Linked DNA regions of Homo sapiens: region 2 is linked to region 1. Evidence: fine-mapped expression QTL. A gene starts in region 1. The other region holds a variant in brackets. All regions are shown on one strand. Distances are from middle to middle.

Region 1 (5,378 bases):
TTCCTTGTATGAAGGCAAGTTCCTGTTGGGGGATGAGATTGGGGTGATAATGTTGCTTTCTGTACTAAAAAAAAATTTCCTAATGCACATGTGTAATTTTCACAAAAAAATAAAATAATTGAAATTACTAAAGAGAACAAGCAGACGGGTTTTCACCATGGCCTGGGCATGAATACCTCTCTTGACCTTGTTCTAAGGCACATGGGGACTGCTGGGTGGAGCATGGATCTGGATAGCAGGCTGAGGTGGAGCCTCCCAGCAATCGGCTTCCAGGAGGGAATGGTGTGCAGGCCAGCACCGCCTCCTCTCCATGGACCACTCAAGGCTGAGGCTCCAGAGCAGATGCCTGTGCTATTCCTGACTATTCCTGAAGAGATTGGCACCTGCGGGGCCTGAGTGTTTCCCTGCACAGAGGAGAGCAGGGACTTTGGCGACCCTGGACGCAGCTGGGGACACTGGGCTCGGTTGAGTGCTGTATGAGAGGCCAGTCCTGGTCACAGTAGAATCTGGGGCACATGAAGCTGGGGATTAAGGCAAAGACAGCACATCCAGCCTGGCCACATTGTGGTTTCTATATAAGTTCCTGATGGGCAGGCCTGTCTCTGATGGGCCAGCAGCTGCCCCCATGCCCCGGCACCCACGCCAGTCATCCAAGGTCTCAGAAGGAAACATCTGAGACACTCCTCCAGCTTTGGAATCATGAACTCAGCTCTTCCTGAAAGTATCGTGTGTGTGTGTGTGTGTGTGTGTGTGTGTGTGTGTACCCATGTACGTGTGCATGCGTGTGTGTGCCTGTGTGTTTAGTGCTTGGGGGGTGTGTGTTTGTGGCTTATTGAAACTATGAATTTTACTGAATCAGTAGAGCCGATCATTCTTTCTGCACAAACCTGGTCCCACCTCGGTCATGCCTCTGTCTGACATCTATCAGTCAATTTATCCATCAATGGTAGAATAAAGTCAATTATCAAAGCTGGCAGTGCGGCCGGCTGCTTTCTTGAAAGTAACAATCAGTCGGGGAGCATGTCTTGCTAATTCCATCCTGAATCTGCCTTCTTCCCTCTTGGGACAGGTGCCTGCGTCCGCACCCCTTTCCTCTGCCAATGGGGAGACCACAGGCTTCCCTCCCTGCTTGCGTGGGCTGGACCCCTCCCCACCTCGGCATGGCTTGTATCAGGGGCAGGAAGGTAGCCAGGAGCATCACGCATGTGAAGCAGTAACTATTTTAGTACATCCAAGGGAGGGAGCTGCTTCCTGCTTTACACACAGGTCCAACAACATGAAGACGGGAATCTCAAGAAAAACAAAGTTATAAATCACAAATCAAGATCATAAAATAAAATCAGTATTGAAATAATGGCAGTAAATGGGTGCTTTTGATGTGGTCTGCGTTGTAAGACACAGGGAGAAAATGCCTCTGTAAAACTCTAATAAATCGCTTTGTTTAATCACTAGAATATAAATGGAATTTAAAGGGTCATCTGAGAGTCATCCTTTAAAATAACACATTAGCTTTTCTTCTATGACAGTTTGGGGGAAAGATGCCATTATTTAGAGCTTGTGTACTTCATTTATTTTTAAATTAATAGTTTTTTAGTTTTCTATCTTCAAAAATTTCCTTAAAGCATTCATCTACTTTCTCTATTTCCTTTTCCCTAATTTCAGAGAAGAGTTTGTGTCTTTATTTTCCTGTCGTGGATGCAGAGAGCTCCTGCGGGTGTTTACAAAAGGTCCCTTGGTGTCATTCTGCTTCTTGGCCCTCCATCACTCATGGAATCACAGCTGATGCCTGGGCTCACAGTTCTCCGAGAAATCACTGGTGCCAGGGAAAAGTGTTCTCTGATTGATATAGCACACTTGCTATGTTTCACAGTTCAGCCCAAGCTCTAGCTGCTATTTCTTAAGCAAATGTGTGCTGTCTTCGTGGAGGTGGCAGTGGAGAAAGGAAAATATCAGCTCTCAGTGATATCACTAACAACACCCAGGGCAACAATTACGCTGGCACGTCCTTTACTCTGGGACCTGCCTGGCCCTGAGGCCGTGTGGGCTTTGCTGGTCGGGTCCTCCCAGCCCTAAGAGGGGCAGGTCTCAGGATCCCATTTTGCAGACCGGGAAGTGGGGTCACCAGACAAGGACTGCACACTGTCCCACAACAAGGAGTTGTTGGATCCCAGTCCCAAACCCAACGTGTGTGACTTCAGAACTGGTGCTCTGAGGAGCTTCTCAGTCACCATCACTGTGCACTCCCTTAGCAGGGATGGATGTGGAAACTCACTCCTGAATTGGACAACTATTGCTGTTTTCCGTGGAGCTGCCAGAGGGATCATTGTAGAGCAACGGTCACCAGAGCACCACTCAGCTGTAAACACTCACTGCAACGAAGCTAAACCCAGACGACAGATCTGGCATGGCCTGGCCTCCGCTGCTCCCCAGCCTGGAGGACTCTGGCCATGCCTCGGGGACATTTCTAGGCTGGAGCATAGACGAGCCAGTGCACGGACCTCCAGTTCTGAGTCCTGCCCTAACACCTGGGAGGAACGTGTGAGTTGTTGATGAGCCGCGATCTGTAGCCATGCTGGAGGAGTTGGCATGAATGGGAAATCCACCTTTCTTGCAAACTCCGACATGCCACTGAGAATTCAGAGTGATAAGCTTAGCCTAAAGCTGCCTCCTCACATAAGTTCAGCCTAAATGGCATGAACCCAGGAGGCGGAGCTTGCAGTGAGCCAAGATCACGCCACTGCACTCCAGCCTGGGTGACAGAGCGAGACTCTTTCTGAAAAAAAAAAAAAAAGTCTTTCTGTACACAGTGAACTGTACCAAACTGGACGTGTAAATAGTCTGTAACCTACTCTTGTGCCAGTCATCGAGTTTTCCCTGATCAAGTAAGACAGACCCTAAGCTGGAGCCAAGTGGCTGCTTCTGGACTGCGCTCTGTCTTCCGTAAGTCACCCTACTTTTTCTGTTCATAAATCTTCTTTGGTCCCACGGCAGTGCCGGAATCTCCCTGAATCTCTTCTGGTTCGGGAGGCTGACTGATTCCCGAACCATTCTTTGCTCAGTTAAACTCTGTTAGATTTAATTTGTGTAAAGTTTTTCTTTTAACGAGAGTTAGCTTCTTCCTCCTCCCTGGCCTCGCCTGTCCTTGCTGATGCGGAAACAGGTTCCAAGAGAGGTGCCTGAGCGCGGTCAGGAAACCTCCAGACGTGGCAGAGCCACGGTGACAAGGAGATCCTGTCTCAGGCTGGGGATGTGGGACCCAGGTGTGCAGGCAAAAGAGCTGGGGAAACTGAGGCCTGCAACGGCACAGGGGGAAGCACGAGCACTGTGATCAAAGGCTCAACCCTGCGGTCCATTCCCTGCCCACTGTGGGGCCCAGAGCTGTGAGCTTGGATGCCGGTGTCATGAAGTTAAAGCACAAAGCTTCTGAGTCCCCGTCTGGAGGACAGCTGCCCCGGCATGCTGCCCAGCTGGCTCTGACAGTGTGAGGATAGACTCTCACTGACCCTGCGCTTGAGCTGGACAAGCCTGTGACTCCCTTCCAGCAACAGAATGTGGCCCCCATGCTGCGTAGTACAGAATCTTCCAGGCCTCTGTCCTGGCACCCCTGCTGCCTGAAGCACCTTCCCCGAGGAAGAAGCCACCGGTTTGGAGCGGAAGAGGCCAGCCAAGGGGCCGGGGCCTGGGAACGGTGGGTGGCTGTGCTGAAAACCATCTGAATCAATTCAAGTTGAACTTGAACTGCATTTTATTCCACTGACATCAGAATTGGATCTCCTCTGGGGTTGTGGGAAGGATTCAATATTTAGAGACATTAATTACTTCAGCACCACATTCTGCCTACTGTACGGTACACATGGGGGACAGGACTCAAATTAAACTGGTCCCTGCTCCTGGGGAAGCCACATTCAAAGAGGAGACAATTGTGAATGAAGCTGCCTGGAACATAATGGGGCCGTCTGCAGGGGAAGGCAGGACTAGCTCAACCCTAGGTAATTAAAGGTCTCTGTGAGATGGGTCTTGAGGGTTGAGTAGGAGCTTAAAAAGCAGTTTGAAGGGATGAGTCTTTCCAGGAAGCAGGAATGACCTGTGCGACCCTGAGGGGGTGCAAAGGACAGAGTGTGCTGGAGAAGGGAAGGAGTGCTTTGTCCTTCGTCCTGCCTGGTGGGGCAGGGCCTCCGGGGTACAGACCCCACCACTCGCGTGCACCAGGGGTGACAGCCAGCTCCATGCAGATGGCCTCCAAAGCGGTCGCTCCTGGGCTTAGCTTCCCTGAAATTAGAAGCAGACGCCTGTGCACGTGTATTATCAGCTTTCGAACATTGAAGGAAACAGCTCTTTTGCAATAACTGGATTCATCATGATACAGATTTTCCCTGTGACCTCTTTATTACTTTTACGCACCACCTTGTATTAAAAAAAAAAAAAAGAAAAAGTCTCAGCCTTCTACTCCCTGCAGCCTGGTTGACTCAGATTTCTTTCACTGTTTCTCCTGTACAAACAGGCAAGGGAATGAACCTCCCCTGCCACGGTTTCCAAGCATATTAAAATATGGTCACCCCTGCAGAACTCCTAATGTTCTTGTTTAATGTGTCAGAAAAGCAAATGGAATTTTATTTTGCTTTGGCACCAGTGGAGAAGAATAATCGTGTCCTCATCAGGAGGGCTGGAAGCAGTGTCCATTTGCAAGTCCTGCAGATGGGGGGTCAGGGAGGCTTTGCCTGAGGCTAAAATGCCCTCAGAATCCTCTGCCAGTTCCTGGCCCGGAGGCCTGGTGTTAGTTAGCTCTACAGCTACAGAGAGAAATCCTGGAAGATGGCTTCAGGCCCGCAGCTTCCCAGGAAAGGAGGTCAGATGACATCTCCAAAGTGGTCCTTCCTGGAAGGTTTCAGAGATGATCAACCCCTAAGCAGGGCCCGTGCCTGGTGACTCTCGGGTCCAGGGATGGCTGGCATATTCCTGGCACCGTCCCTGGGTGGGAGCAAGGGCACCATTTGGTTTTGCCTGGAAATTGGACCTTGGCTCCTTGTTCCAAACCGAATGTGGCTGAGGAGCACTCAAATAGTTTCAGGAAACACCCTTCAAATTCAGTTTGCTGGGTTCAGCAAGTCAAAATACAGGAGGATTAGTTACATTTGAATTATAGATAAACAAGGCACTTATTTTTAGTCTAAGCATGTCCTAGGCAATATTGGGGCTAAACTTATAACAAAATTTATTTGTTGTTGACCTGAAATTCATATGGGACTTAGGTACTGAAATTTACCTGGCAATCTACCTCCAGTGCAGCTGACGTTACAAAGGGACTCTGGGTCGTGGAGCTGCCCGGCGTCCTGGCTGTGGGATGGGTACAGGCCTGTAGGCATGCAATGCACGGGCCC
Region 2 (5,378 bases), 40 kb after region 1:
TGTAATATAAAGTGAGTATAGAAAATACTATATATATTTAAGTCTATGGAACAGTTTATGAATACATTGTACTGCTAGAAATGCAGGTCACATTCCGTTACTAATAAACAAGATGATTCTGCTGACCTCCTGCCTTTAGTCGTGGGAGGCCAAGGCCGCATCCATCCCTGCAGGTCATGAAGCCTTCCACTGCATTTTCGCCGTTCTCTGATCTGGGGTTTTTCAGCCTATAGAACTGCCTCTCCCAGACAAGAGTGAAGATGGCGAAGGGGTGTTTTAGTTTGTTTTTCTCTCTCTGCTCTCTGTTGCCTCACTCCCATCATGATGGAAAACTCGTAAGTGAATCATAAGTGAATACCACCCACCCTGTGAGACAAAGCCCCTCCCGTGGCCCCGCACACCCCCTTTAGCTCCAGGTTCTCTGTCCCCACTCACAGCGGCGCTCCAAGCCCCACTGTCTTCACTGTCTTTGCTTTCTTTCCTTACATTCCGTGTTTTAAATAAACTTTTGATTTGGGACAATTTAGTGGGAAAAGCTGCACACAGAGTCCCCGCATCCTCCTCACCCTCTCAGTTCCTCTGATGTGGGCACCTCCCATGGTGTGGCACGTGAGACCTGCACCCCTCTCACCCTCTCCGTTCCCCTGATGTGGGCACCTCCCATGGCATGGCACATGAGACCCGCATCCCTCTCACCCTCTCCGTTCCCCTGATGTGGGCACCTCCCATGGCATGGCACATGAGACCCGCATCCCTCTCACCCTCTCGGTTCCCCTGATGTGGGCATCTCCCATGGTGTGGCACATGAGACCCGCATCCCTCTCACCCTCTCGGTTCCCCTGATGTGGGCATCTCCCATGGTGTGGCACATGAGACCTGCATCCCTCCCACTTTCTCGGTTCCCCTGATGTGGGCACCTCCCATGGCGTGGCACCTGGTGGGGCACAGGAGAAGCCCACCCTGGTGCATGCCCGCCGTGCACTCGCTCCAGCTGGGTCTGGCCAGGGTATCTGGCCGGTAGCCAAGAGAGGTGGGTGATGAGGGTGAATCCAGGCAGTGCCAGGCCCTGTCTAAGCAGCCCCACTCTGCCCCTTGAGTAGGTGGTCCTGGCCAGGAGACACTGCAGGGTGGACACTGTCCCCACCCCGTTCAGGTGTCCCTCCCACTCCTGGTCCCAGTCATCCACACAAACCTGATGCTGACTTGTGTCTCCTCCCTCGGGGGCCCCCAAGGATGAGTGTCCCATGGTGTCCACGCCTGTGAGGACCACAGCCAGGCATCCTGACGTGAGCCTGGGAGAAGCATCACTCTTATTTCTTTTGGATGACAAAAGGCGTTGCTTGCACCTTTTCCCCCGCAGTGGTCTTTCCTCAAACAGTGGTCTCCTGGCCAGCCTGCTCCTGGCCTCCTGGGCGGGTCTGCAACAGGCAGGACCACACGCTGGTGGGCTCCTGTGGCTGGAACCAGCCTCCTCTCTCCGAGGCAGCCACTGGTGGATGCGCAGGGTCCTGGGCCCAGTATCTCTTTCCCATCACCCCATTAAGGTGTTCTAAAGACAATCATGCCTCCTCTGCTGACCCTGAGGCCCTGCAGAATAAGCAAAGAGCCGCCCCCAGAGCTGCTGCCCATCCCTGAGACTGGCAATTTCCATGGGTGAGGGGGAAGCTGATGGGGACAATGATGTCAAAGAAAATAGAAAATAGCATTTCTGGGGAGTCATCCACCTGCAGGGGAAGGGCCCACGCTTCTCCCATCCCTTGTCACTTGCCTGACGTGCCCTCCCAACTCCAGTTGACTTCTGGCTGATAGGAATATATTGCCATTAAAAGTAACGGCACAACCCAGCAAAGCTAGGGTGGTCCTGCTGGCTCCTCCGATTAGCAGGAAATAAGGTTGGGAGAAGGACACAAGTTCATATGGAAATGAAATCAAACCCAGCACCACGTGGCGGCAGAGGGATCTCTTTCTTAACCCCGTCCCCGGCGCTGTTTCAATATTACATTTTTTCCTTGGGTTCTGGAAAATGAAACACCTTCTGCCCATTATGCTCTGAAATCGAGCACATTTGGGGACAGCAGGCTGCGGGGATGAGAGCAGGCATGGCAGCTGTGCGGTGTTGCTTCCCCCAGCCTTCCCCGCAAGGCCAGTGCCCCTAATTTTCAGTGCAGGAGGAAGCAGAGCCTATCTTCACATTTACCTTCCCTCTGAAAGTGCGTTTGTGTCAGTGCCCTGATTACAGGGCCTCTGATGTGTGAGGACACTGGGTTCGGAGGTGTCCCTGGGCCTGGGGGGACATGAGCGCATAAAGCCGTCGGTGGGATGCTGACTGTGTGGGAGGTGCTCGCATGAACATAGATTATCTCTAAACCTCACAGGAGGCTTAGACATCATCTATGCTTCCAGAAGCTCCAGTTGACAGAGGCCGGAGTGTGGGAGTTCGCAACATGCATAATCACATCAGCCAGTTCTCAGGATAAATACTCTGTTTTCTCTGTGTCTATTTATCTCTTTATCTACCTCCCCATACCTCTATCTCTATGTCGCTGTCTCT[T/C]TCTATCCTTATTCCTGTCCTTTTCTCTAGCTCCATCATTGTCTCCCTCCCATTCCTATCCTTACCTCCATCTCTATCCCTAACCCTATTCCTAGTGCTATCCCTGTCTGTCTAATGCCCACTTCCCTGGCCTGGGTGATGGCGCAGGTGGTATCCACCGTGGTGACAGCAGCTACACCTAAGCCAAGAGGTGTAGGCAGAGTCACTGCCCTGTTTTTAAGGGTTGGTAGGAATCGAGTTTTAGCATTAATGCATAATTTTTCAGTTAGTTGTATTAGTTACGTAACTGAGGGCTCGTTTCTCATAGTGACGAGCACAGTTCTTAAAAGTCCAATCCAGTGAGTTTTGACACAACTGAACCTCAGTAGCACACGTCACAACCAAAATCAGGAAGATGTCACCTCCCTGAAAGCTTCCTTGTGCCACCTCCTGCGGTACCCATTGCCCTGCTGCCCATCTCCATTGACTGGCCTCGCCTGTCCAGAAACTTTATAGAAATGGAACAGGGTTAGGGTGTGTGCTTGATTTCAGTAGCTGCTTTTACTCGGTGTAATGCTTCTGAGACGCCTCTGTGTGATCAGGTCTAAGTGGCTGGATTTGTATTGCTGAGTGATATTCCCGTGGATGAAGAGTCCACAGTTTGTTTATAAAACAAAGTCACCTGTTGAGTGTTTAAATTGTTTCCAGTCTGAGACTCTTATGAAAAAGCTGCTATGAATATTTTTATGCCGATGTTTCTGTGAACCTGCTTTCATTTTATCCAAATACATACCTAGGTGTAGGGTCCAGCCCTACGGGGCTTAGTGGGTGTTCTCCCCGTGTGCGGAGACGAGAGACTGTAATAAAGACACAAGACAAAGAGATAAAGAGAAAACAGCTGGGCCCCGGGGGACCACTACCATCAAGACGCGGAGACTGGTAGTGGCCCCAAAGGGCTGGGCGCGTTGATATTTATTGCATACAAGACAAGGGGGCAGGGTAAGAAGGGTGAATCTTCTGAGTGATTGACAAGGTGAAGCAAGTCACGTGATTACAGGATAGGGGGCCCTTCCTTTTTAGGTAGCCGAAGCAGAGAGAGAAGGCAGCATACGTCAGCGTTTTCTTCTATGCACTTATAAGAAAGATCAAAGACTTTAAGACTTTCACTATTTCTTCTACTGCTATCTACTACGAACTTCAAAGAGGAACCAGGAGTACGGGAGGAGCATGAAAGTGGACAAGGAGCGTGACCATTGAAGCACCACGGGGAGGGGGTTAGGCCTCCGGATGACTGCGGGCAGGCCTGGATAATATCCAGCCTTCCACAAGAAGCTGGTGGAGCAGAGTGTTCCCTGACTCCTTCAAAGAAAGGAGACTGCCTTTCGCAGTCTGCTAAGTAAAGGGTGGCTTCCCAGGCACTGAGTTACTGCTTGACCAAGGAGCCCTCAAGCGGCCCTTATGCGGGCGTGACAGAAGGCTCACCTCTTGCCTTCTAGGTCACTTCTCACAATGTCCCTTCAGCACCTGACCCTATACCCGCCGGTTATTCCTAGGTTATATTAGTGATGCAACAAAGAGTAATATTAAAAGCTAATGATTAATAATGTTTATAATGATTGATAATTCTTCATGGTCATCTCTATATCTAATTTGTATTATGACTATTCTTATTCTAATTATTTTCTTTATTATACTGAAACAGTTTGTGCCTCAGTCTCTTGCCTTGGCACCTAGGTAATCCTCCGCCCACACCTAGGAGTAGAATTTGAGAATCATGAAGTAGAGACGTGTGTTACACTGTGAGAAACAACAAAACATCTTCCAAAGTGATTGCGCCAGGAACCACGCAGGGGTGCCTGTTCCAGCTCCTCGGTAATTTTGCCCACGCTGCACGCTGCCAGTCTTTTCAATTTCAACCATCCTAGTGGGAAACACCTGGCATGTGTGTGTCCCCCCGTGATTAATGACGCCAGCAACTTGGCATGTGCCTTTTGGCTATTTGTGTATTTTCTTTTGTGAAGTGTTTCTATACATTTTTGTCAATTTGTTTGGACTGTTTTCTTCTTCTGGAATTGTAGGAGCTATTTTTTTCCTATCTATTTTGGATCTGTGTCCTTTGTCAGATATGTGCACTGTGAATATTTTCTTCCCATGTCTTGCTTTTTCATTTTCTTAGAGGTGTCTTTTGTCGAGCAGATGCTTTAATTATGATAAAGACCAATTTTATCAGTTTTCTGTGGTTAGGCTTTCTGCGTCTCATCTAAGAAACATATGCCTATCTCAAGATGATGAATTATTCTTCTATGTTCTCTTCTAGAAGTTTAATGGTTTTGCTGCTTATGCATAAGTCTGTGATGAATCTTGAATTACTTTTTGTGTATAGTGTGAGGCAGGCATAAGATATTTCTAATGATAACTCACCTGCTCCAGCACCATCTCCCTTCCCCACTGAATTTCACCAGGATCTTTGTTTCACATCTATTGACCAAGAAGTTCTGTATCCATTTCTGGACATCTTATTCTGCCCGTTGGCTTTTCTTTCTGCACACTGACACTGCGCTGTCTCGATTCCTGGTGATTTATAGTAAGCCTGGACTAAGGTACTGAAGTCCTGCAACTTCTGTCTTTCTTTGAAAGTTTGCTTTGGCTGTTCTAAGTCATTTCCATTTTTTTATGAATCTGCTTGTAAATTCCTCCAAAGAGATTCTGCTTGGACTTCTGTTGAGATTGATTTTAAGCTATAAATCTATTTGGGGGGAACTAACATCTTATAAACATCGAGTCTTCCAATATGAACATGATGTATTTTCCTTTTATTTGTGTCTTCTTTCACTGTTAATAATGTTGT

Alleles and levels. Alleles are on the strand shown, and positions count from the first base shown. SD is a standard deviation of normalised expression in the study named.
With allele C in place of T in region 2, the expression in skin of the gene that starts at base 2,863 in region 1 is higher (moderate effect, 0.44 SD a copy in TwinsUK).

What was found. PIP is the estimated chance that this variant, and not a neighbour inherited with it, causes the effect. A credible set is the group of variants that fine-mapping cannot tell apart.
Region 2: its variant is the best candidate, but not a certain one, in a credible set for the expression of LINC01310 in skin (TwinsUK, PIP 0.63).

Annotation. Positions count from the first base shown.
Region 1 is chr22:48,863,908-48,869,285 of GRCh38, forward strand. LINC01310 (long intergenic non-protein coding RNA 1310) reads left to right here and starts at 2,863. Exons shown (of 7, transcript NR_038944.1): 1 at 2,863-2,940. RefSeq lists an enhancer at 4,884-5,378.
Region 2 is chr22:48,904,333-48,909,710 of GRCh38, forward strand. No RefSeq gene overlaps it. Among named protein-coding and RNA genes, the nearest start is that of LINC01310, 40 kb to the left of the region's middle. The variant T/C (reference allele first, on the strand shown) is at 2,552.